3 linked regions of the Homo sapiens genome follow. The protein of the gene in region 2 interacts with the protein of the main gene of each other region in a pairwise test. Each region holds a gene or a part of one and is shown on either strand. Other genes may lie near its edges.

Region 1 (8,120 bases), about 24 Mb from region 2:
TGTAAATAAGTCTCCCTAATACATCGTTGGGTCATATGCAACCATGATCTGCATAAAGTGTGAATCAAAAATGGAACAAGTTGTTATATTTAAGTGGATGTCGTGTGATCTATTTCATCGCATGTAAAAAGTTATGCTAACTTTAGTGTTAATAATATATAACACTTTGATTTCTTTTGAACACAGGACCCCCTGGAACAGCTGTCCCTCCACCTACTGGCTACCCAGGAGGCTTGCCTATGGGATACTACAGTCCACAGCAACCCAGTACCTTCCCTTTGTACCAGCCAGTTGGTGGTATCCATCCTGTCCGGTATCAGCCTGGCAAATATCCTATGCCAAATCAGTCTGTTCCAATAACATGGATGCCAGGGCCAACTCCTATGGCAAACTGCCCTCCTGGTCTGGAATACTTAGTTCAGGTACTCCATGAAAATACAAATTATTTTCTTATGAAATGTGACCATAGGGATCCAACAAAGAGAGAAAAAAAGCAGACCAGAGTGAATAAAGGAGATGGGTCAGTGATGACAGATGCCATTTGTGAAACTATAAGAACAGTGATACCAGTTTCAGAAATATGAAGGGGAAACAGCAAGTACAAGGATGTTTATAGTGGGATGAGTATGTTTTTCATAAGGATTTATGTTGAACTTCAAGGCATTCAAGATGTTTTCTTGAAAGAATTGTACAAATGGAAATAGAAAAACTATCATAGAGGATAGTTGTGTTATTTGCTTAGAAGTAAACAGTTAACATCAAAAAAAGCACAAAAGAGAACAAAACACAATACAGTGGGTAAATTACTGAGTGCCTTAGCCCATTGCTTTTTACCACCACCCATCATTTTCATTAGCTACTCTTGTCACCCCCAAAAACAAACAATATAAATAAAAATAATGGACCCTACAAAGAATATTGCTTCAGGCCAAGTTCCAGAGACCCCCTTCATACAACACAATAACTCCCTAATTAACATCTATGTAGATATTCTGCTGCCACCAGGACATGCAGATCAAAAACTGGGGTAATATGGGAAGTTTGTGCACAAATAGTTTTGTTTAAAAACCCATGTCTGAAACTAAAAAACCTGCTTAATGAAAATAAGATAAAGCTGGCAGAGTAGACGCCTTTTATTTGTGGCGTTGATTCCTGCGGTTTCAGTTACCAATGGTCAACCAGGTTCCAAAAATATTAAATGGAAAATTCTAGAAATAAACCATTCATAAATTTTAAATTTATTCTGAGTAGCATGATGAAATCTTGCACAGTCCTGCTGTGTTCTGCCTGGCACATATATCATTCCTTTGTCCAGTGTATCCACGCTGTAGATGTTATCCATAGTATACAGACCCAGAGTCACATCTTGGTTATCAGATTGACTTACAGTATCACAGTGCTTGCATTGAAGTAACTTATTTTACTTAATTATGTCTCCAAAGCACAAGAGTAGTAATGCTGGGAATTTGGATATGTCAAGGAAAGACCAAAGAGAGGCCATAAGGTCTTCCTTTCCATGTAAAGGTGAAGGTTTTTTACTTAATAATAAAAAAATTCCTATGCTAAGGTTACTAAGATCTATAGTAAAATTAATATGTCCATGAAATTGTAAAGAAGAAAAGAAAAATTTGTGCATAGTATATACAGGATTTGGTACAATCTGTGGTTTCAGGTATCCACTGAGGGCTTGGAAAGTATCCCCTGAGGATAAGAGGGAGACTACTTTATTGGAGATTCCATAGAACCTTCTGAATCTTTTTTGTTGTTGTTTATAGAAAAAGGAAGTGCTGAAATACATTATAAAGAAGAAACTTCCCAATTTAATACTTACCTCCCCAGGTCAACAGCCAAGTATTTCCTCGAGTTCTGTCATTTCTCTTTTCAATTCTGTATATTGACAGGGACCCTGATAATCTTGTGTGCTGAAAACTATTTGTATAATATTATAACATTGGTGTATAGAAGTCAATACAGTTGGATCAGGAAAATTTGGATTTTACAAAAGCCAAAATTTATCCTAAATTATTATTTGGACAAAATTTTGACAAAATGCAAAACTCATTCAGGTGAAGTGCTAGAGTAAACATCTACATTATTTCAGAAGATAATAAAATGTTTGTAGCTTATCAAGTTTAGAAAGTCTCATTTCTATACTTGGTGATAAATACAGAAGTTGTTCTTGGGAATCTAACATCTTCTACAGTCAATTCTCTTTTCAAATTGTATAGCTTTGTTTATTTAAATATTAAAAACTTGTTTCTTAATTTCTTTTATGATTCTGACAGAGGTTAATTTAACGTATTTTATGAGTTTTCCCTTTTAGGAATATTTAGAGTTAAAGAAATAAGTGAAAAAATAAACAAAACACAGGTTTGGACCCAGGCAAACCTGGTTTTTTAATTCTGTCCTACTCTCTAGTAACTCAAAAACTTTGATAAAATTTCTAACCTCTTGCTGCTTGAATTTTATCATCTATAAAATAGTATTATCAATACCTACCTTACCAGATTGTTAGGAGAATTTTTAATGAGATAAGGGTCACAATGTGCCTAATATTTTTGACATAAAGGGCCGTCCCAATGGATGAAAGCTATGTGGCTGTTATTAGCTTAAATACCTTCTTATGTGTGAATGCAAGACATAGAGCCAATCTTTTTCCTCTATCTACCCTAGTCTTTTTGAGATCTCACATGAAGATTACATGAATCTTTATCAAGGTTCCCAAGAATCCTAAAACATCCAAATTAGCACGATTATATTATTTTCAGAGTCTTGGCTTTACCAGTGACTTTACCAATTTGTCAAAGAACTACCCCTTAACAGACACATATTATTGAGTTCCAGGAAGGGACACAATAATATTGAAATTAGGCCAGTTAATAATCCTGTGATGGCCTCTGAGTGTTCAAGTGAAAGAAACAATTGCACATCTCTCACTGTAAATAAGAAAGCTGGAAATGATTTAGCTTAATGAGGAAGGCATGTTGAAAGTTGAGATAGGCCAAAAGCTAGTCTTCTAGCACCAGTTAGCCAAGCTGTGAATGCAAAGGAAAAGTTCTTGAAGGAAATTGAAAGTGATATTACTCCAATGAACATATGAATGGTGAAAAGTAAAAGAGCCTAATTGCTGATATGGAGAAAGTTTTAGTGGTCTAGAAAGAAGATCAAACCAGTCACAACATTTCCTTAAGCCAAAGCATAATTCAGAGCAAAGCCCTATCTCTCCTAAATTCTATGTAGGCTGAGAAAGGTGAGGAAGCTACAGAAAAAAAAAGTTTGAAGCTGGCAGAGGTTGGCTCACAAGGCTTAAGGGGGGAAAAAAGGCACTTTTGTAACATAGAAGTGCAAGGTGAAGCAGCAAGTCCTGATGTAGAAGCTGCAGTAAGTTTTTCAGAAGATCCTAACTATAACAAGATCATTGATGAAGGTGACTCTGCTAAACAACAGATTTTGAATATAGATGCAACAGCCTTCTGTTGGAAGAAGATGCCTTCTAGGACTTTCATAGCTAAAAAGTAGAAGTCAACGCCTGACGTGAAAACTTCAAAGGACAGACTGACTTCCCTGTTAGGGTCTCTTGCAAAACATTACTACTCACTGACAACACATCTGGTCACCCAAGAGCTCTGATGGAGACGTATAAGGAGATTAATGTTGTTTTAATGCCTGCTAACACAACATCCATTCTGCAGCCCATGGGTCAAAGTATAATTTCAATTTACAAGTCTTATTGTTAAAAAAATGAATTTCGTTAGGCTATAGTTGCCATAGATGGTGTCATTTCTCAGACAGATCTGGGCAAAATAAATTGAAAACCATGTGGAAAGGATTCACCATTCTAGATGCCAATAAGGACATTCATGATTCATGGGAAGAGGTCAAAATATCAGCATTAACAGGTGTTTGGGAGAAGCTGATTGCCACTTTTATGATGATTTTGAAGGGTTCAAGATTTCAGTGGAGGAAGTAATTTCAGATATGATGGAAACAGCAAGAGAACTAGAATTTGAAGTGGAACCTGCAGATGTGACTGAATTACTGTAACTCATGATACAACTTTAACAGATGAGCACTTGCTTCTTATGTATAAGCAAAGAAAGTGCTTCCTTGAGATGAAATTTACTCCTGGTGAGAATTCTGTGAACATTGTTGAAATGACAAAGGTTTTAGAATACTACACAAATATAATTGATAAAGCAGTGGCAGTTTTTAGGTGGATTGACTCCAATTTTGAAGGAAGTTCTACTGTGGTAAAGTACTAAAAAGAACATCATGTGCTACAAGGAAATCTTTCATGCAGAGAAGAGTCAGTCAATTGATATGGCAAACTTCATTATCTTTTGTTAAGAAATTGCTGCCGCCAACCTGGGCTTCAGCAATCACCACCCTGACCATTTAGCAATCATTAACATAGAGACAAGACCCTCTACCAGCAAGAGGATTGTGACTAGCTGAAGTCTCAGATGATTGTTAGCAGTTTTTAGCAATAAAGTTTTTTAAAATTAAGATATATACTTCTTTTAGATTAATACTCTTACACACACTGTAGACTACATTATAGTGTAAACATAATTTTAGATTCAATAAGAAAATAAAACATTCATGTCACTCACTTTCTTACAATAATTGCTTTATTGCCTTGGTCTGGAACCAAACTTGTAGTATCTTCAGAGTATGCCTGTAGTTTATATTTTTACTTTTCACTTCTAGATTTTAATACCCTACTTTTCTAAAATGGACTATAAACCATTTTAGTAGTCACTTTTGGTATTTTATGAGGCATATTTATGTCTCCTTATGTCATTGTGTTTTTATGTAAGAAAAAGGTTTTAATTAAGCATAGATTGTGCCCTTTGTACCCTCCTGTAATTAATCACACCATAAAACATTCGTGTTTAGGTACATTATTTTAATTTCATGTATTACTGCATTCATATATTCTTCATTAATTAATGTACTTAACCAATGTTTGGTGAAATATGGCACTTCAGGCAGTGTTCTGGGCTCAGGGATTAGGAATGGTCTAATGGTCTAAATGATGTAAAATTATACAAATATAATCAGTGTGTCCTCAAGAAGGTTTCTTTTCTTCTGCTAGAATGTTCTCACATGTAACAGATAATGTGCCCATCAAACTGCTCATCTTTAGAATGATTCCTAAGATAGAAATTTCTCTAATGGTATATACCCAGCCGTCCTTTTCATGGGTTGCCATCTAACAATGTTTCCTTTCTCTTCCCCTAATCCTGTTCACATGCTTCCTAGTGTAATAGACCCTTCCCTTATTAAAGTGTGCACTTGGGGAAGACCCTGGCCTTTGTAGATCAAGTGAATGCAAGTCAGTTTATAAACCTCTGCTGGAGGTACCTGTAAAATAATATAAAATGGGGACACTCCATGTGAGGTTCACCCTGGCTTGTTTGTTCTCCTTAAGCCACTGAGAGACTTCCCTTTTCTATGGCTGGTCCGTGTTAATCGTTCTGAACTTAACTAAACAACTACAGGCTATGGATGACATGTAGAGAGACCAGTGAGTAGGGACTTATCTAGGAACAATCTATAAGCACAGCTTCTTCTGATGTGATTACTACAGCAAGTAGATGTTTTGTTTTTCTGATATAGCAGACAACTTTTTTAAAGTGGTACTGAAAGAAAGTGTTTTTCTAATATGGACAACTCTGCTAATATCCATCCGATCAGATGCAGATAAGCTAATTTCAGTTGGTAAAATTTTTTTGATTCTATTGACTTTCAAAAATATATTTTGGTATCAATTGATGCATTTTAATATCTATTTCATCAGTTTATTTTACAGTGGTATTTTAGTTCTGTTATTTCTGTCTTCTGATTGCTTTGTTTTATCCCAACAGTTGGACAACATACATGTTCTTCAGCATTTTGAGCCTCTGGAAAGTATGTATAATTTTTGTAGTGCTCAGCAGTATTTTAATCAGATGGAAATTTGCATTATCCAATATCTAGTTCCTTCTTTATATTGATCATGTTTTAGTGGCTCAAAGAAAAAAAAACTGCTCTATTACCCTATCTTCAAGAAAGTAATAAAGTGAATTATTTTGTATAATTTTATCCTTCTATACATCATATAATCATAAGCTCTTAGATTTGAAAAGGGCTTACATTTTATCTGGTCAATAGCCCTACACTTTACCCATTGTTCCTACTCCACATTTACCTTTCAAAGATGAGTAAAAAAAGGAGCCAAGAGACTAAATGAGTTAGCCAGGGACACCACAGTCAGCTAATCACCTCCAGATCAGGAAATAGCATTTAAACCACAGTCAGCTAATCAGTGGCAGAGCTGGAAATAGAATCCAAATCTGCCAAATCGTAGTGCAGTGCCCTCGCTTTGGAAGTAAGAAGAAAAGATCTCAGTCAAAATGATGCCTGTTCTCAGTTCATCCTACAAGAGTACTGACCCTCACTAAACCAGCTGTGCACATTCATTTGGCCACCACATAGGGCCTTTGACTTTTCTTGGTTTGTTCTCTTGTTTGTAATTAGTAATGACCCTACTCCTCCAAGCATGTTTCGTGAACTGATTAATTAATGGTCAAATGTATAATTTTTTTAAATGGTTTTATAATTAAAGTTTTCTGAATTCAGATACTCCAGGAATTGAAACAAAAGGGTTGTTTCAATCTTTTCTTTTATGTAAAATTTTTTTAATGTTTACACTGAACTTCTTAAAAGAAATGTTTTAAATTTTCACAATTGCTTAAATACTTTTAGATAATATGATTTTTGGGGTACTCTAATCAATTCTACATATTTCACCTGAAACTTTAAAAAAGCTATGTTGCTTTAAGCCCTTAAGAAATACTAAACAAGGACTTTCTGAGGCCCATTTTAAATGTTTCTAATATAGACTTACTCATTTTATTTTTTAGTGATGACATGTTTTGAAACTAATAATAGATATGATATTAAAAACAACTCAGACCAGATGGTTTACATTGTAACCGAAGACACAGATGACTTTACCAGGAATGCCTATCGGACACTAAGGCCCTTCGTCCTCCGGGTCACTGATTGTATGGGCCGAGAAATCATGACAATGCAGAGACCCTTCAGATGCACCTGCTGTTGCTTCTGTTGCCCCTCTGCCAGACAAGAGGTCAGAGAATGGAAGTCTGATCCACAGCTTGCTTCTGATCTAACTCTTCATGGCATAGTGTGCTCCTTCCACTACATAGGGAGGATATTCCCTGGCCCTGCCAGCCAGAATGGAAGAAGATAGTGGGGAGGGAGGAAACCAAATTGTCTCGCCTAAGGAAAATCATAGAGGATTTTTTCTTTTTGGTTACTACTTTTTAGTGCTTAAATAAGTGGGTCAAGCACAATTGACATATGTGTAGTCAATAATTATGATTCCATCAGTTGCATCTACTTAATTAGAAATTTACCTACCACATTTATCTAAATGTACGTACCTATCACTAGATAAAGCAATGCTAAAGATAAACATATGCTTTTAGAATTGGAAGGGACTTAAATATGTTTAGAGTACCCATCACAACGCATACCTTGCCACAGATAAAGAGTGGCTCAAAATTACTAAATGGCTGAGGTGTTACATTTGGCTAAGGACAGGGCTGGAACTAGAATACAGATGTGCTGAGTTACAGTGTGGTTACTCATTATCTTGCATTTCTAAGCAAGTTATTTTCTGTAGGGAAAAGAGAAGCGGTTTTGGAGAGAAACCAAACAGAGTCTGAATTCTAGATATGTCACCTACTTAAATCTGTAAAATTTAATTAACCTGTTTGAGCCTTAGTGTTCTTATACATAAACTGGGTAGTATAATACATCATAGGATTACTGAAATACTTAAATGATCTGTTAAATAACATCCTTTACTAAATATTAATTTTTTACAACCGTCTCCAGGCCTTATTTACCTGTAAAATGGAAATATTAATAGTACCTATCGGATAGGATGATCATTTTAGGGATTAAGTCAATTCTTCTGCACAGTTCCTAGCAAATAGTATAGTACTCAATGAATATTTTCTCTTTTCAGAAATCTTACTCCTTTGTTATTATTGTCTTTGTGATAACAGCCTTATATGTGAAGTGAATACCTATTATCCTTGATCCTT
Region 2 (6,408 bases):
AACCCTTGTTGCAAAAGAATCTGTTCTTCTAATCTTGTTCATTTTCTTCAATTTCCACTACTTCTTTTCTACCAGGCTGATAACCATAGCAGGCCTGGGCATAGCCTGAGAAGTATAATCTCTGCTCAAAGAATAAACACACCCTTACCAAGGGAATTATCTGAAAATTTATTTTGTTTGTGTAATTCAGATGCCATTTTATGTTTAAAATGTTGTCCAGGATCAAAATGCCTGATAGGGCAAAACGGTGGAAATCCAAACTGCAATATCAAAATATTCTCTTATTTAAAGTCTCTGTCAATAATGATATCTGATTGAATCTAGGCGAGTGAGCATAATATTACGAAAAGAAGTTTTGAAAAGCTGGAATTGTGTAGAAATGCTCAATTTCCTGAAAATGGCTGAAGAATGAAAATACAAAAAGGATGGATATAAGATCGTAGAATGCTGTAGTTAGAAATATTTACTTGAGACTACTGACAAGTCCATTTCCATTTTCTCTTTCCCTAAGAACACCAATCAGGGTCTTCAGGCCTGGAAGATTGAAGACATTCCAGCCAACAAAATGTCCATTGCGTGGCAGCTACCACAATATGCCCTGGTTACAGCTGGGGAGGTCATGTTCTCTGTCACAGGTCTTGAGTTTTCTTATTCTCAGGTAAGTTTTTGCAAATAGAAGGTAGAAATTGAGGCATTGCTTGAAGGACAATGAATTTTAATTCTAGCACTGACTTAAATAGGTATGTTATCTCTTTTGGCCTTGGGTACCTTATTTATGACCCTGAACATATATGACCTGAACATCTTAACTCCCCAGGTCATGACAGTACAGCATGGGAGTCTATGATTTTGGGGTTCTAGGAAAGAGATTAAAGATTAAAATGAAGAGCTGCAGAGTCAGACTTCCCGTGTTCAAATTTTGGCTGCATGACCTATTGTGTAACCTTGAGCAAGTAAATTACTATCTCTGTAATGCTGTCGCCCAGGCTGGAGTGCAGTGGCGCGATCTCAGCTCACTGCATTCCAGCCTGAGCGACAGAGCGAGACTCCATCTGCCTCCCCGGCTCAAGCGATTCTCCTGCCTCAGCCTCTTGAGTAGCTGGGATTATAGGCGCACACCACCATTCCTGGCTAATTTTTGTATTTTTAGTAGAGACAGGGTTTCACCATGTTGGCCAGGCTGATCTCTAACTCCTGACCTTGGATGATCTGCCCACCTTGGCCTCCCAAAGTGCTAGGATTACAGGCTTGAGCTACTGCGCCCAGTCTGTAATACTATTTTTTAAATGTATAAGAATACGAATAGAACTTATCTCTTAGGATTGTAATGAAGATTATATGACATAATGAGTTTAAATATATTCAGTTAGGAGCTTCATCTTATTCTTACTGTTTACATTATTAACACCCTCTGAATCAATGTGATAGCTGAACTTAATAAGAGAAGTTCTAACTTGGAAGCTTTTGTGGGAGAAGTTTCCTGGATGCATGGGGCATGAGGGCAGTGAAGGGGGTTTGTTTACTTTCAAACTTGTGTCATCCCCAGGCTCCCTCTAGCATGAAATCTGTGCTCCAGGCAGCTTGGCTATTGACAATTGCAGTTGGGAATATCATCGTGCTTGTTGTGGCACAGTTCAGTGGCCTGGTACAGGTATGGATCTGAGGGAAGCAGGATTCATTTCTACTCAAGTTTTTCCTCCAGCTTTCTCTTCTCCCTTTCCCCCATCTCTCTGCTTCCCACATTCCCCATTCAGTGCTGTGACATGAAATGGGTTAGATATACAGACTTTACCAGGAAAATAGACATATGTAAGTGGCAATAATGACTACAATATACCTATGTGAGGAGAGGCCAGTGAACCCAGTCTTTGTCCAGCAAAAGTCTGGTTAAACTGGTGATCCCAGGTCAGTCTGCTCCCCACTCCTCATCCTGTAAAGATCTCTTTAGTTTCAGGTTTCTCCATATTCTTCTCATATTTATTTCCCCCTGCAGTGGGCCGAATTCATTTTGTTTTCCTGCCTCCTGCTGGTGATCTGCCTGATCTTCTCCATCATGGGCTACTACTATGTTCCTGTAAAGACAGAGGATATGCGGGGTCCAGCAGATAAGCACATTCCTCACATCCAGGGGAACATGATCAAACTAGAGACCAAGAAGACAAAACTCTGATGACTCCCTAGATTCTGTCCTGACCCCAATTCCTGGCCCTGTCTTGAAGCATTTTTTTTCTTCTACTGGATTAGACAAGAGAGATAGCAGCATATCAGAGCTGATCTCCTCCACCTTTCTCCAATGACAGAAGTTCCAGGACTGGTTTTCCAGTACATCTTTAAACAAGGCCCCAGAGACTCTATGTCTGCCCGTCCATCAGTGAACTCATTAAAACTTGTGCAGTGTTGCTGGAGCTGGCCTGGTGTCTCCAAATGACCATGAAAATACACACGTATAATGGAGATCATTCTCTGTGGGTATGCAAAGTTATGGGAATTCCTTTATAGGTAACTGCCATTTAGGACTGATGGCCCTAATTTTTGAGGTGCTGATTTAGAGGCAAAATTGCAGAATAACAAAGAAATGGTATTTCAAGTTTTTTTTTTTATAAGCAATGTAATTATGCTATTCACAGGGGCCTCAAGAATTGGTATGTATGATGTGATCTGGTCCAGCCAGGGCCTGGCTTGTCAGCTCTCTAGGTTTGATATGACTTTAGTAAATTTGTCAATATAGATGGTAGGAAGCAGAATGCCATTTTATTAAAACACAGGAGAAGTTATATCTCTCTGATTATGATAGTATTTTATTTACTTATCCAAACCCTCCTTTCTCAGTATGGATAGATCATGGAAACCAGATTAGAGATAGTAAGCATTAGTAAACATTGTTCTGGAGAACAGGAACAGGTGTAAGTTGTAGAAATCCTGAAGAGCCAGTCATTCTTTTACAGAGTACATTCTTCTTAGCCTCTATGGCGCTGGTCTATGCCCTTCAGTGAACAGTTGTATAAACAATAATTATAATTTGCAACCTTGTCTTGTCAACCTTGCTGATCCAGCTTTTTCTTATTATTACACCTTGTCTTGCTTATTGCAGCAAATATTCAATAACAACAATGTTTCTATAAGTCCAACTTCCTTTATTAATGTTTCCATTTAGCCTCAAAAATATCAAAGTAGTTCCTTTTTGATGTTGTTTTCCTGATTTACTTTTCCCATAAGTTTTAAATACCATTTCTGCCTTGAAGCCTAGAAATTTTCTTTTTATTCAAAAAAAGTTACATTAATGCTCTAGGTTTGAGGTTCTAAAATGGAAATGTCAATAGAGGAGCATGGTCCTATGTGAGGTTCCTATCAAAATTTGTGGGAGTAGGGATGGTAGAGCATGAGGGTTTTGTTTGTGTATGTGTATGGTCATGAAAAAAAATTGAGAAACATTACCTCATACACAATGAATGAATCAGAGGACAGACACGGGAATGGCACGACTGTGCAGTGTGTTACTAGGAAAAAAGTTCAGAATCACTGTTCTAGAGAGCTTCATTTCCATTGGTTTTAAAACATTATTCTCATGTAGAACAGTGTTGGGTCTCATACTGTTAATGTTAATACGTAACAATGTTCATGTTAACAGGCACCTGTTAATATTAACAGATAATGTTACTGTTAACAGGTAAGAGAAATTGCTCTAAGTGCCCAAACTTTATATACTTCAGTTTTAATGACAAGCATTTCAGAAATATAAGAGCGGCAGCCAGACCAACCAGTTTTTCCAGATATCTTGATGTGAACCTGACCCTACTCCTTTAGAAGACAGCCTGTTCATTTTTAAATAGCTTTAACCCAAACTGTTCTATGACCATTGTTTCAAGAGACATTAACACAGTTCTGTAAATAGAAGTGTCTATGGACAAATAAGTTTGGGAAATGTGGCATACTGTATCCTTTTCTTAACATTTGCATATTAAAGACTCTGAGATATCCTGCAGTAAAGACACAAGATACCTTGTTTAAATTAACATGTACGCTGCAGAACATTGGTTTGGAAAAAACTGTTGAGCAGTTCTTCCTTGTAAGTGCTGAGCTTCCTCTCTGAAACCTCCTACCATTGTTTTTTTTCCCCTGTAGCTAACAAGAATAAGTATAACAGCCGGCCAGGCACAGTGGCTCATGCCTGTAATCCCAGCACTTTGGGAGGCTGAGACAGGTGGATCACCTGAGGTCAGGAGTTCGAGACCAGCCTGGCCAACATGGTGAAACCGTGTCTCTACTAAAAGTACAAAAATTAGCCAGGTGTGATGGCAGGTGCCTGTAATCCCAGCTACTCGGGAGGCTGAAGCAGAAGAATTGCTTGAACCCGGGAGGCAGAGGTTGCAATGAGCCGAGATCACGCCATCACACTCTAGCCTGGGGGACAAGAGTGAGACTTCATCTAAAAAAAAAAAGAAAAGAATATGTATACCCCCTTTTTCATGTGGCAGATGTTTAGCTATTTGGGGAGAACTTTCATGGCTCTTCCCTAATCATCAAGTATTCAAGGTAAAGATTCTCGGTTCCTGTAATGGTTCCTCACCAGGCATAATTTGTCCTTTTACCATCCTACTTTCTGTCTTCTGAAAAACATTCTTTATCTGAAATACAGCAATTAATATTAAGATATCTTAATATGAAGTGCCTGGAGTCAAATATAACATTCCAAAGTAGTCTGACTGGAAGAACTAGCACCTGCCTTTCTTCAAACAATGCACTTCTGTTAATGCAGTGTAAGGTAACATGAGTTGTTTTTGGAAACTACATCATAATGTGGGCTTACATTCTAGCACTTATCACTTAATGACAGGGATACATTTGAGGAATGCATTGTTAGGCAATTTTGTCATTATGCAAACATCATAGAGTGTACTTACACAAACCTATGGTATAGCCTACTACACATCTAAGTTATATGGTATAGACTGTTTCTCCAGCTATATGGTGTAGACTGTTTCTCCTAGGCTACAAACCTGCACAGCATGTTACTGTATTAAATGCTGTAGGCAATTGTAACACAATGGTATTTTTATACTTAAACATATCTAAACATAGAAACGGTACAAAAAACTTTACACATTATATAGATGTATCAAATTATTCATATGTGCTCTGAAAATGTCTATATCTGTTATGTATCAATTTTTTAAAAAGTGAATGACATAATTCATTTGAAAAAATGTGGACACACAAATTGGAAAAGAGGTATAAATGCAGTATTATAATCTAATGGGACCACCATCACATATTTGGTCTGTCATTGACTGAAACTGCAATATAGAGTTTTTCTTAACATTTGCATATTAAAGACTCTGACTATATATGGACATATATGACTGTCACCATTGTAAGACATTTTGATGTTATTCTAAGTGACATGTTAAACCATTGGAAGTTTAGAACATGAGAGTGACATAATGTGATCATTTAAGATCACTTTGGCTGCTAAGGGGAGAATTATCTATAGTCAGGAAGGAAAAGAAGTAAGGAGTTAAGTTAGGAGGCTTTTGCAATAGTTCAGGCAATAGATGGTAGTGACTTGGACAAGGTGATAGTAGTGGAGGTGGAGAGAAATGGTTTGACTTGGAATTAAACTTTAAGCTAGAACTGACAAGATTTGAGTGTAGTTTGGATACACAATTTAAAAGAAAGAAATGCGCCAGATGTGGTGCCTTACACCTGTAATCTCAATTCTTTGCAAGGATAAGGCAGGAAGATTCTTTGAAGCCGGGAGTTCAAGACCACTCTAGGCAACATAATGAGACCCCCTCTCTACAAGAAATAAAAATAAAAAAATTAGCCGGGTGTGGTGGTGTGCACCTGCAACCCCAGCTTCTCAGGAGGCTGAGGCAGAACAATCCCTTGAGCCCAGGTGCTTAAAGCTGCAATGAGCTATGATCACACCACTGTACTCCAGCCTGGACAATAGGACCCTGTCTCAAAATGAAAGAAGCGGTGGGGGGTGGAGAGAGAGAGAGAAAGGAAGGAAGGAAGGAAGGAAGCAAGGAAGGAAGGAAGGAAGGAAGGAAAAAGAAAAGAAAAAGAAAGAAAGAAAAAAGCTCACTCCTAGATTTGGTCCTAAGTAGTAAGGATGAATCAGGATGCAATTTTCTAGAAATAGCAAAGACTAGGATAAGAAAAGTTTTCTGGTATGAGTTTTGTTTTGGACATGTTGAGCTTCTACCCATGCTAATGGATATCCAATTAGAGACATTAAGTTAGCAGTTTCATATATGAGTCTGAAGATCAGGTAAGAGGTTGGAGCTAGAAACATAAACTTGAGAATCATCAGCATATATATGGTATTTAAAGCCATCAAACTGGAAGAGATTTCCCAAGAAGTGAATGTGTATAGAGAAATGATGAGCAAGAAGGACAGTTTGA
Region 3 (8,120 bases), on a different chromosome or scaffold from region 2:
TCCCATCTCACAGGGCGGAGCCTCTGCACCTGCTGGCGAAGGCTTCACCCTCTAGTATGCGCATCCGAGGCAGAGGCGGGAGGGTGGGCCCCTTCTGTGCCATCTGGAACAGAGGCCACACCAGCCTCCCGTGCCCCATTCCCTCCCTGGCCTTCATTTTTTATAGTCACCCCAATACTTGGGCTGGGCGTGTTGCAAATGGGAGAGAAAGAGGAGCAGCCTAGTGTGGGGTCCGGCCCTGGGCTGAGAGGCAGACACCTGGGTTCAAGACGTGTCCACTGCTAACTTGTTGAGCTTCTTTGGAGCTGCGGACCCTGACCCTCGAGAGGGAACTCAGGTCTTGTGACCTCACAGCCACACCCAGACAGCCAGCTCACTTCATTGCTTTGAGCTTATCACCCATCCCACGAAAGCTGGCTAAGAGCAGCCCAGCAGGGGCAGTGCTGAACATAAGGGCGCTTAGCATGATGGTGGGGGCTCAGGCGCTGTCCTGTCCCAACAGTGGAAGGGTGGGGTTCAGGACCTCAACTCTGGGCCTAGAAATAGAGAAGGTACCCCTCTAAGGGCTCCCGTCAGACACTGGCCCTGGAACTGGAGGGGCCTCAGGGGTGGCCTGGATGCCTCAAGAGGAGCAGGGAACAGTCTGGGCAGCAGGTGACACACTCTCTTTCATGACCTGGGGTAGGCTCCTGCAGCCTCTCTGGCCCTGAGCCCCAGCCCAGTCAAAACCTGGGTGGGGCAAGTGGTTGGCATGGAGATTTCCAAGGAAAACAGAGAAAGATGTGGCAGGAAGTGGTTGGGGTGAGTCAGGGGGTGTCCCTTCGGGACATGCTGGGGACAACTTTCTCCTGACTGACTCAGGGCTCAGGATATGCCCTAGAGAGACCGTGGGCCTCCGTCCAGCCTGCAAGGTCCCGGCTAGTTCTAAGAGCCAAATACCAATTTTGGCTAAGGGTGAGAGGCTCTGAGGCTGGGGTGGACACTCTCACCTGTCCCTGTCCTAGCTCAGCCACTAACACCATGTGGCATCACACAACAGACTGGCCTGTGTGGCCCTAGTTCCTGTCTATGAGATAGGGACATAGCAGGGTGTGGCTGGGCTCTGAGAAGTAGGAGATGCTGGTGGACTCAGGATTCCTGGCATTTGCTGGCTTTTTTCATTCTTCTGCTGTCTGGTCTGCTCAGCCGGCTCCCTGCAAGCATGACCAGGGACTGCTGGGTGCTCAATGCAGGGCTGGGTTAGCCCGGCTCCCTCCCGAGAGAAGCCCACAGCCCTAGGTCAAGATAAGCCAGTGCCCAGCTGCCTGTGATATGAAGCAGGAGGCAGATGCGATAAGAGGTGTCAGGGCGGGCCCGGGAACTTTTGAACTTAAGGGGTGGGAGGGCCAGGAAGGCATCAGGGAGGAGGTTTCGTAGGAGCCTGAATGTGGAGACACTGCAGAGGGAAGGGGCAGAGGGACTGTGTGAGCAAGCACAGGCTAGGAGGAGGTGAGGGCCGTGGTACGGGAGTTGTTGGGTATGGTCAGGCTGGGGGTGCATGGGAGGAGGGTGGTGAGGGCTCAGGATTCGGGCCAGGGGCTGCATCCGGGGGAAGGGGTCTGGATTCCCAGAGCCTGTGATTTCAGCCCGCTGGGCTCAGGCAGAGGGCAAAGCTACCCTCTTCGGGGTCTTCTCCCAGCCCTGCTAATTCCAGGCCTGACTGCTCAAGAAGTGTTTCTACCTGCAGCATCAGGGGCCTGACTGAAGCCCTAAGTTCTCCCCTTTATCCCGTTTTTCTGGGCTTCAGTTTCCCCAGTCATAGAGTGAGAGGCCTCTTCATGCCACCAGTTCTCCCGGGGGTGCTGCTGCCTCCTCCAGAGCTCAGGGGAGGGATGGGGAAAGGAAGGCAGAGTTTCCATGTCCCTGCCCAGCCCGTCCTGCCCAGGGAGGGGCTGGGGGCTGGGTGGTGATGCCACATCTGGGACATATAATTACTGTTTCCGCCAGCCCCAGATGAGGGGGAGGGCACAGAGATGGGGAGCTTTGTGGTGGAGACTTCCCTCACCATGGAAAATCCTGACGCTGCTTCCCCTTTAGGGACCTCAGAACAGCCCAGCCGGTCCCAGTGTTGCCCACCCTGATGCTTGGCCCTGACTGGGATTTGCCCTGGGAACTCTGAAGGGGCCATGCTTTGAGAGGGGACACGGCCTCCTGGGATACCTGTCTGAGGGGCTCACCCCCTGCTCACCACTCCCAGGCCACAGCCTCCTGTCACACCTTGCCTTCCCTTCTCCACCCCAGGCAACCTTCTAGCAGCATGAAGTGGCCATTAGCTCACTGCAAGCCAATTCCAGATGGTACCCCCACTTAGTCTAGGGCCCCCACCCAGCAGGGGCCATGGCCCTTACCTTCTGGAAGCACCAATGAGTCTGGAGTCTCCTGAGTGGCTGGGATCTGAGCCCTCACACCGGGAGGTGAAGGCAGGAAAATGCTGTCCGCGAGGCCCTGCAAGTGGCCAGGATCCCCTCAGTCAGGGCTTCCCCATGGGGATGAGAGGGGCTCCTTGCCCACATGGAGTGGTGCCCAGGGGGATCATGAGGGGCTGTCTTCACTCAGCCAGGAGCTACAGTTCTGTGGGGTGGGCAGACTCTGAGGCTGAAATCTCCAACTTAAAAGATATCCGGAAAGGCCGGAAAATGCCCCCGGCCCTTCCAGCAGCTCCTTTCAGTGCCTGCAATCTCGCTGTCAGGGCCCCTTGAAAGGCAGATTTCTACTCAGTGTAAAGAAGGTTGTTGTTGATATTGTTGTTGACACGAAGAAGGGGCTGTCTCTAAGTCAATAAGCTCCCTGCCATTAGGGGTGTGCAAGTAGATGCTTTCTGGTGAGGAGGCTGCTTTGGGGGTGCTAGTCTATGCGGGGGTCCAGTGGGGTGGGTGACAGGTTCTGCAGCATAGGCTTTGTGTCATGCTGAGATCAGCAATTCTGATGGCCTGCGGGGGATCCTGTGCTTAGGTTTCTGGATCTGGGGCTGGAGAGTGACCACCCCGATGTGAGGCAGGAGGCACTTTTGGAGACTGCGGGGGCTCGAATCTGGGCCAAGGCCTCCATTTTACTGATGGGGAAACTGAAGCCCACAGAGGCGTGGAGACTTGTCAAGGTGGCACTGCCTCCTAGCCCTTGATTATTCCTGCTGCTCCAAAGTGTACACACATGGCACAAACACAAACATGCACACACATGTGCTCTTACGTGGAGGACACACACACATGGTACACAAAGCACATTCTCAAGACTGGGTGGTCCCACTCAGACTCTGGGACCCAAGGAGGGTTGGGCGGGGATTCCTCAATGGAGCCTTTTCCTCTCCCTGCCCTGGAGTTAGGAAAAGAAGGAGGGAGGGAGGGAGGAAGCCATTGCTTTGTGTATTGTTTCTTGTCAGGAAGATGAAATGGCTTCTGGGAGCAAATAAAGGCCTTGTTGAGACCTGCTGCTTTCTCACATGGGGGGCTCATTTTTTTCTCTTCTCTTCCCTCTCTAGCTGGTAGTGGCAGCTATGTGGGTGTGTGACACAGGGAGACAGTGAGGCACCCAGAAGTGCCATCAGACATACCAGTGCAAACACACAGCACAGCCTCCAGGACCTCATGTCCTGCAGGGATGCCTGTATGATATAGCTGTTCCCAGGGAGGCCGAGGCACTTGGTCAGTACCTCATCAGTTGATGAAAAAGAGTGTGCATTCTCTAATTCAGGGGTACAGGGTTTTCATATTTTTCTGAAGTCAAGCTTGTTAATTATGGGGTTCAAACCCTCCCTGATCATGTTATTGGTAGTTTTCGGCTGCTTCATTTATTCTGTACATTTCTAATAGAAGATTGTTAACATTTTTCACTCTGGTGGTAGGGTGATCCAGTCCTCCTTGTAATTTTGTCAATTTTCCCCTCATTTATTTTTAGGCTATGTTGTTTGGTGCATACAAGTGGGGGATTTTTGCAGTTCCTTTATAGATTTTTATTTTTTTTTTTGAGACGGAGTCTCACTCTGTCGCCCAGGCTGGAGTGCAGTGGCACCATCTCGGCTCACTGCAAGTTCTGCCTCCCGGGTTTATGCCATTCTCCCACCTCAGCCTCCCGAGTAGCTGGGACCACAGGCCACCACACCCGGCTAATTTTGTTTTTGTATTTTTAGTAGAGACGGGGTTTAACCGTGTTAGCCAGGATGGTCTCGATCTCCTGACCTTGTGATCCACCCGCCTTGGCTTCTCAGAGTGCTGGGATTACAGGCGTGAGCCACCGCGCCTGGCCAGTTCTTTTATAGATTTTTAAAATGTAATTATTGTGTAATAAACCACTTACAATCTAACAAAAAAGAGAAAGAGGGAGTCAGCCCTGGACACATGTGGTCATCACAGACACAGCAGACACTTATCTACAAAGACACACAGAGGCACACAAAACCAGGAATCCCCCCATGTCCACGTGTGAACACCCATGGAGGAGTGACACTCTGGAGCCCACATAGGTCCCCTCACTGCCCAGTGCTGAGTCTTGGAGGCACTGGGGTGGGCAGGGCAGGCCTCGATGTCTCCTATCCCTTGAGAACGAAAGCTCAGAGCCTCAGTCAGGCCTGGCTCTGGAGCCTGCTCTTCCCCAAGGCCAGGGCACCAGGGTGCCCAGGCCAAGTCAGGGGCCCCATGCCTTGGAAGCCACCCTGGTTGGCCTGTCTATGGGTAGCAGGGAGTGCTTAGAGCACATTGCCTGGAGAGATCATCCCTGGGCTGCCCTAGAGCCAGGACACACTGGCAGCCACAGAACCACCTTCTGCCAGCTCCCAAGTCCAAGCTGGGAATAGCCAGGTCCCTTGACTGGGCCTAGGAGTGGCCAGCCCATTGACCTGTGAGTGTAGGGTGGCACAGACTATGGGGCAAGGATCCTGGCTTTGCTGCATCCTCCCTGGGCCTCAGCCTCTGCGTCATCATCTCACTGAGCCATCGCACAGGCTGCCCTCTAGGGCTCCCAGAGGCTAATGATTGGCCCATTGTTTCCCAGCTAGAAAGTGAAGAAGACCGCCCTGGGTCCGGAGAGCATCTCTGGAGCCAGGCTGCCCCTAGCAAGGGTGGGAGTTCTAGAAAATTAGCATTCTCTGCCACTTCTATCAGCACACAGTAAGCCTCCCCTCAGAGGCGTGGGCAGAGAAATGGCAGAGGTCCCCCACTCTGTCTTCACCGAGCTCCCAGGCCAGGAGGAGATGCACCCACATAGGCCGCAGGAAGATTGATTTCCTACAAGATGCACAGAGAATTCAGTGAGGGCATGGTGGGTGGGAGCAGAAGTTAATTCCAGCCAGGGATCTGGGAAGGCTTCTAGGAGCTGGTGGGGTCTGAACTGGGCCTTGAGTAGTGGGCTTACAAGGGCTTAGCACAAAATGGAGAGCTTGTATCTTTCTGACACTTCAGAAGAAATGTGTGGATTATTCTTTCGGTAATACTTGCATTCACAAAACCCAGGGCTGCAGACAAAAGCGGGAAGACAATTGAGAATTGAGAATTGAGAATTGTTCTGATTCTTACTTTTTTTTTTTTTTTTTTGCCTTAATAAGACCTGGGCCAGGCAAAACTACCTGGGGATGTGCAAATATATATGTACATATATATAAAACAAGTGACTACAATGGGAACTGTCCTTGTTTAAGCAAGTTTTCAAATTTAATGGGTTGTAAACAGTAACGTACATTTGAAGTATTTTACCTGCTCTTTCCTGGACATTGAGTTTCAACAGGCCTTTGAGTGCCCCTTCCAATTCTGAATTATCAAGTGTTTCCAGATGTAAATAATGCAAGTGTATTAGATAGTTGAAGGAAGGTTGTCAGTAGATGTTGAAGCTATCAGGGGAGGCTTCCTGGTGGTAGTGGTAGTGGGTATTGGAGAGGAAGGCTGTCAGCCCATGTGGTTCTCAGCAGTCACGAAGGCACATTCCAGAATTCCCAGGGCAGGTGGCTGACCCCTCCCCTTCCCAAGGACTCAGAGTACAGGGCCTGGAACTATCACCCTCTGCTCTGCCCACTTTGCATGAAAAGCATGTTGTCTTTGGGTAGGGGCTGGGGCTCTCGCACCTGGTTAAGAACCAGAGGAGATGAGCTCTTTCTGGTCACATCTGTGAGGGATGGGGCTGGGAGGGTTCTCCAAGGCGGGAGCCACTTACAGCGATGACTCCATTAATCATCGGGGAAGGGCTGGTTTCAGGACTTCTGCCAGCTAGCAATTAGGCCAACCCTGGAGAGCAGAAGAGAGAGGAATAGAAGGAGCCACGAGCTTCCTGAGGGCTCAGATACAGAGGGACAGGGGCCTCACAGGTGCAAGTGTGGGTGGGCATCAGGACTAGCCGGGCTGGCCTCACCAGCCTCAACCCCATTCAGCCTGTCCTAACTCTGGGCAGGCTTCTGCCAGCAGCTCCACCCGCCGTCACTCCTTCTGCCTGTCCCCAGATCCTGCACACACAATGAGAAGAACCAAAACAAGAGTCACTACCACTGCCCCATCCCTCCTGCGTCGACAACTCTTTCCAAAAGCCCTGAGACGGCCCCTTTGGCCTTTGAACCTCCCAGCTGCTCTGGAGAGCAGGCACGGACAATGAGATCCATTTTGCAGATGGGAAGACTGAAGACCAGAGGGAATAGGCCATGCTCATGGTGCCAGAAAGTAGAAGAGTCAGAACCTGAACACAGGGCTTCTGCCTCTTTGGCCCAACCTTGGGACAGAAAGGGAACTGGGCATTGGCCAGAGGGCTGGCGGACCTAAGGGATGTAGCCCTGGGGTCCGCCAGGAAAGGCCCAAAGCTGGGGCTGCAAGGCAGGGGAGGGGATGTGAGTCATTCCCTGTAACCCAGGGCTGCAGACAAAGGCGGGAAGAGAATTGTTCTTGTAGGATGGCCTCAGGGTGGGGCTGGGAAAACCTCCAAGGTGTGCCCCCCTACCTTGGATTTTGCAAAATTCTCTATGGCCTTGGAGACACTCCCATATCCTGAGGATGGGAGCTGGGTAGTTTGTCTCCCAGCTGGGAAGTGTTTGGGTGCACCAGCCCTGCCTGGGAGAAGGCAGCCTAAGTGGCCTCAAGTGGGCATCTTTGCAAGTGAGCCTTTGCTGATGTGGTCCATCTCCCCTGTGTGAGTGCACTTAGCCCCTGGGACGGCCACAAAGCATAGTGGAAGGTGCTGGGGCTTCCTGGGGAGGGGTCCTCCGGGGGCAGCTGCATGGGGAGGGCCTTCATGACCTCACAGCAGCTTCCATTCCCTTCTCTTTCCATGAGTCATGTTTCTAAAAGTGGCCCAGGAGTAAGTGGCAGCCAGACGGTGGTGGCGGGGCCTATCTGGCCAGGCAGAGGGAGGGTGAGGCTGAGGCCAGCAGTGGGGAGGAAGAAGAGAGAAGGAGAGACAGGGAGGGCAGGGCCAGAAGCAATGGGAGACAGGCCTTGGACCAAGGAAAGAGACGGGGTGGAGAAGGAGAGAGAGAGGGTGGAGACAATAGGGAGGCAGGCACAGAGGAGAAAGAGGGGTGGAGGGAGCCAGGACCTCACCGAAGGCCTCCTCAGCCCTGGAATTTAGATGCAGTCGGGCATGGGGTGGAATGTTCTGGACTTTTGGGTATGAAGCCGTGTCCCCTGCTGGGCCTTCCCACCTTTTTGCATCTCTTCTCCTAGGAGTGCTCCTGACCATCACCTTCATGCCTGGGGCTCGCCCCTTGCCTCTGGTCTTGGTACCCCAGAATACCCTGGCCTGGATGCAGCTGGATGCAAAGGCCCCAGCTCACCCCAGGCCTCTCCAGCTTCTAGGCAGAGTGGGGCCTGGGTCTAGGCAGGTATTAGGGGCTGGGCTGGAGTTTCATTAACACAGGGGGTGGGTTCAAGGCCTGATTTCCACTACCTGCCGTGTAGGCTTGCCTGGGACCCTGTGATGGGCTCTGAAGGCCCATCTGAGGGTCCGCCCTTCATGCCTGGGCCTGGGAGGCCTGGGTATCCTTGGGGTCCTGGGACACAGTCCCTGCCTACCCTCCTCACCAGTCCTCACCACCTCTCTCCCCTGCAGCTGGCTGATGGTGTGAACTCGGGCCAGGGCCTGGGCATCGAGATCATCGGGACCCTCCAGCTGGT

What was found.
Region 1: the proteins of SLC15A2 (region 2) and PLSCR4 interact in binary tests that used the Homo sapiens proteins (3 or more experiments, as listed by UniProt).
Region 3: the proteins of SLC15A2 (region 2) and AQP1 interact in binary tests that used the Homo sapiens proteins (3 or more experiments, as listed by UniProt).

What each region holds. Positions count from the first base shown.
Region 1 is NC_000003.12:146,198,828-146,206,947, reverse strand, and holds part of PLSCR4 (phospholipid scramblase 4), read left to right. Parts: intron 1-186; coding exon 187-422; intron 423-5,870; coding exon 5,871-5,913; intron 5,914-6,908; coding exon 6,909-7,135; intron 7,136-8,120. UniProt on the Homo sapiens protein: Catalyzes metal ion-induced ATP-independent rapid bidirectional and non-specific movement of phospholipids (lipid scrambling or lipid flip-flop) between the inner and outer leaflet of the plasma membrane and participates in the redistribution of phospholipids between membrane leaflets.
Region 2 is NC_000003.12:121,938,838-121,945,245, forward strand, and holds the end of SLC15A2 (solute carrier family 15 member 2), read left to right. Parts: intron 1-511; coding exon 512-658; intron 659-1,546; coding exon 1,547-1,651; intron 1,652-1,993; coding exon 1,994-2,170; 3' UTR 2,171-5,351; downstream 5,352-6,408. UniProt on the Homo sapiens protein: Proton-coupled amino-acid transporter that transports oligopeptides of 2 to 4 amino acids with a preference for dipeptides. Transports neutral and anionic dipeptides with a proton to peptide stoichiometry of 2:1 or 3:1.
Region 3 is NC_000007.14:30,914,011-30,922,130, forward strand, and holds part of AQP1 (aquaporin-1), read left to right. Parts: intron 1-8,055; coding exon 8,056-8,120. UniProt on the Homo sapiens protein: Forms a water channel that facilitates the transport of water across cell membranes, playing a crucial role in water homeostasis in various tissues.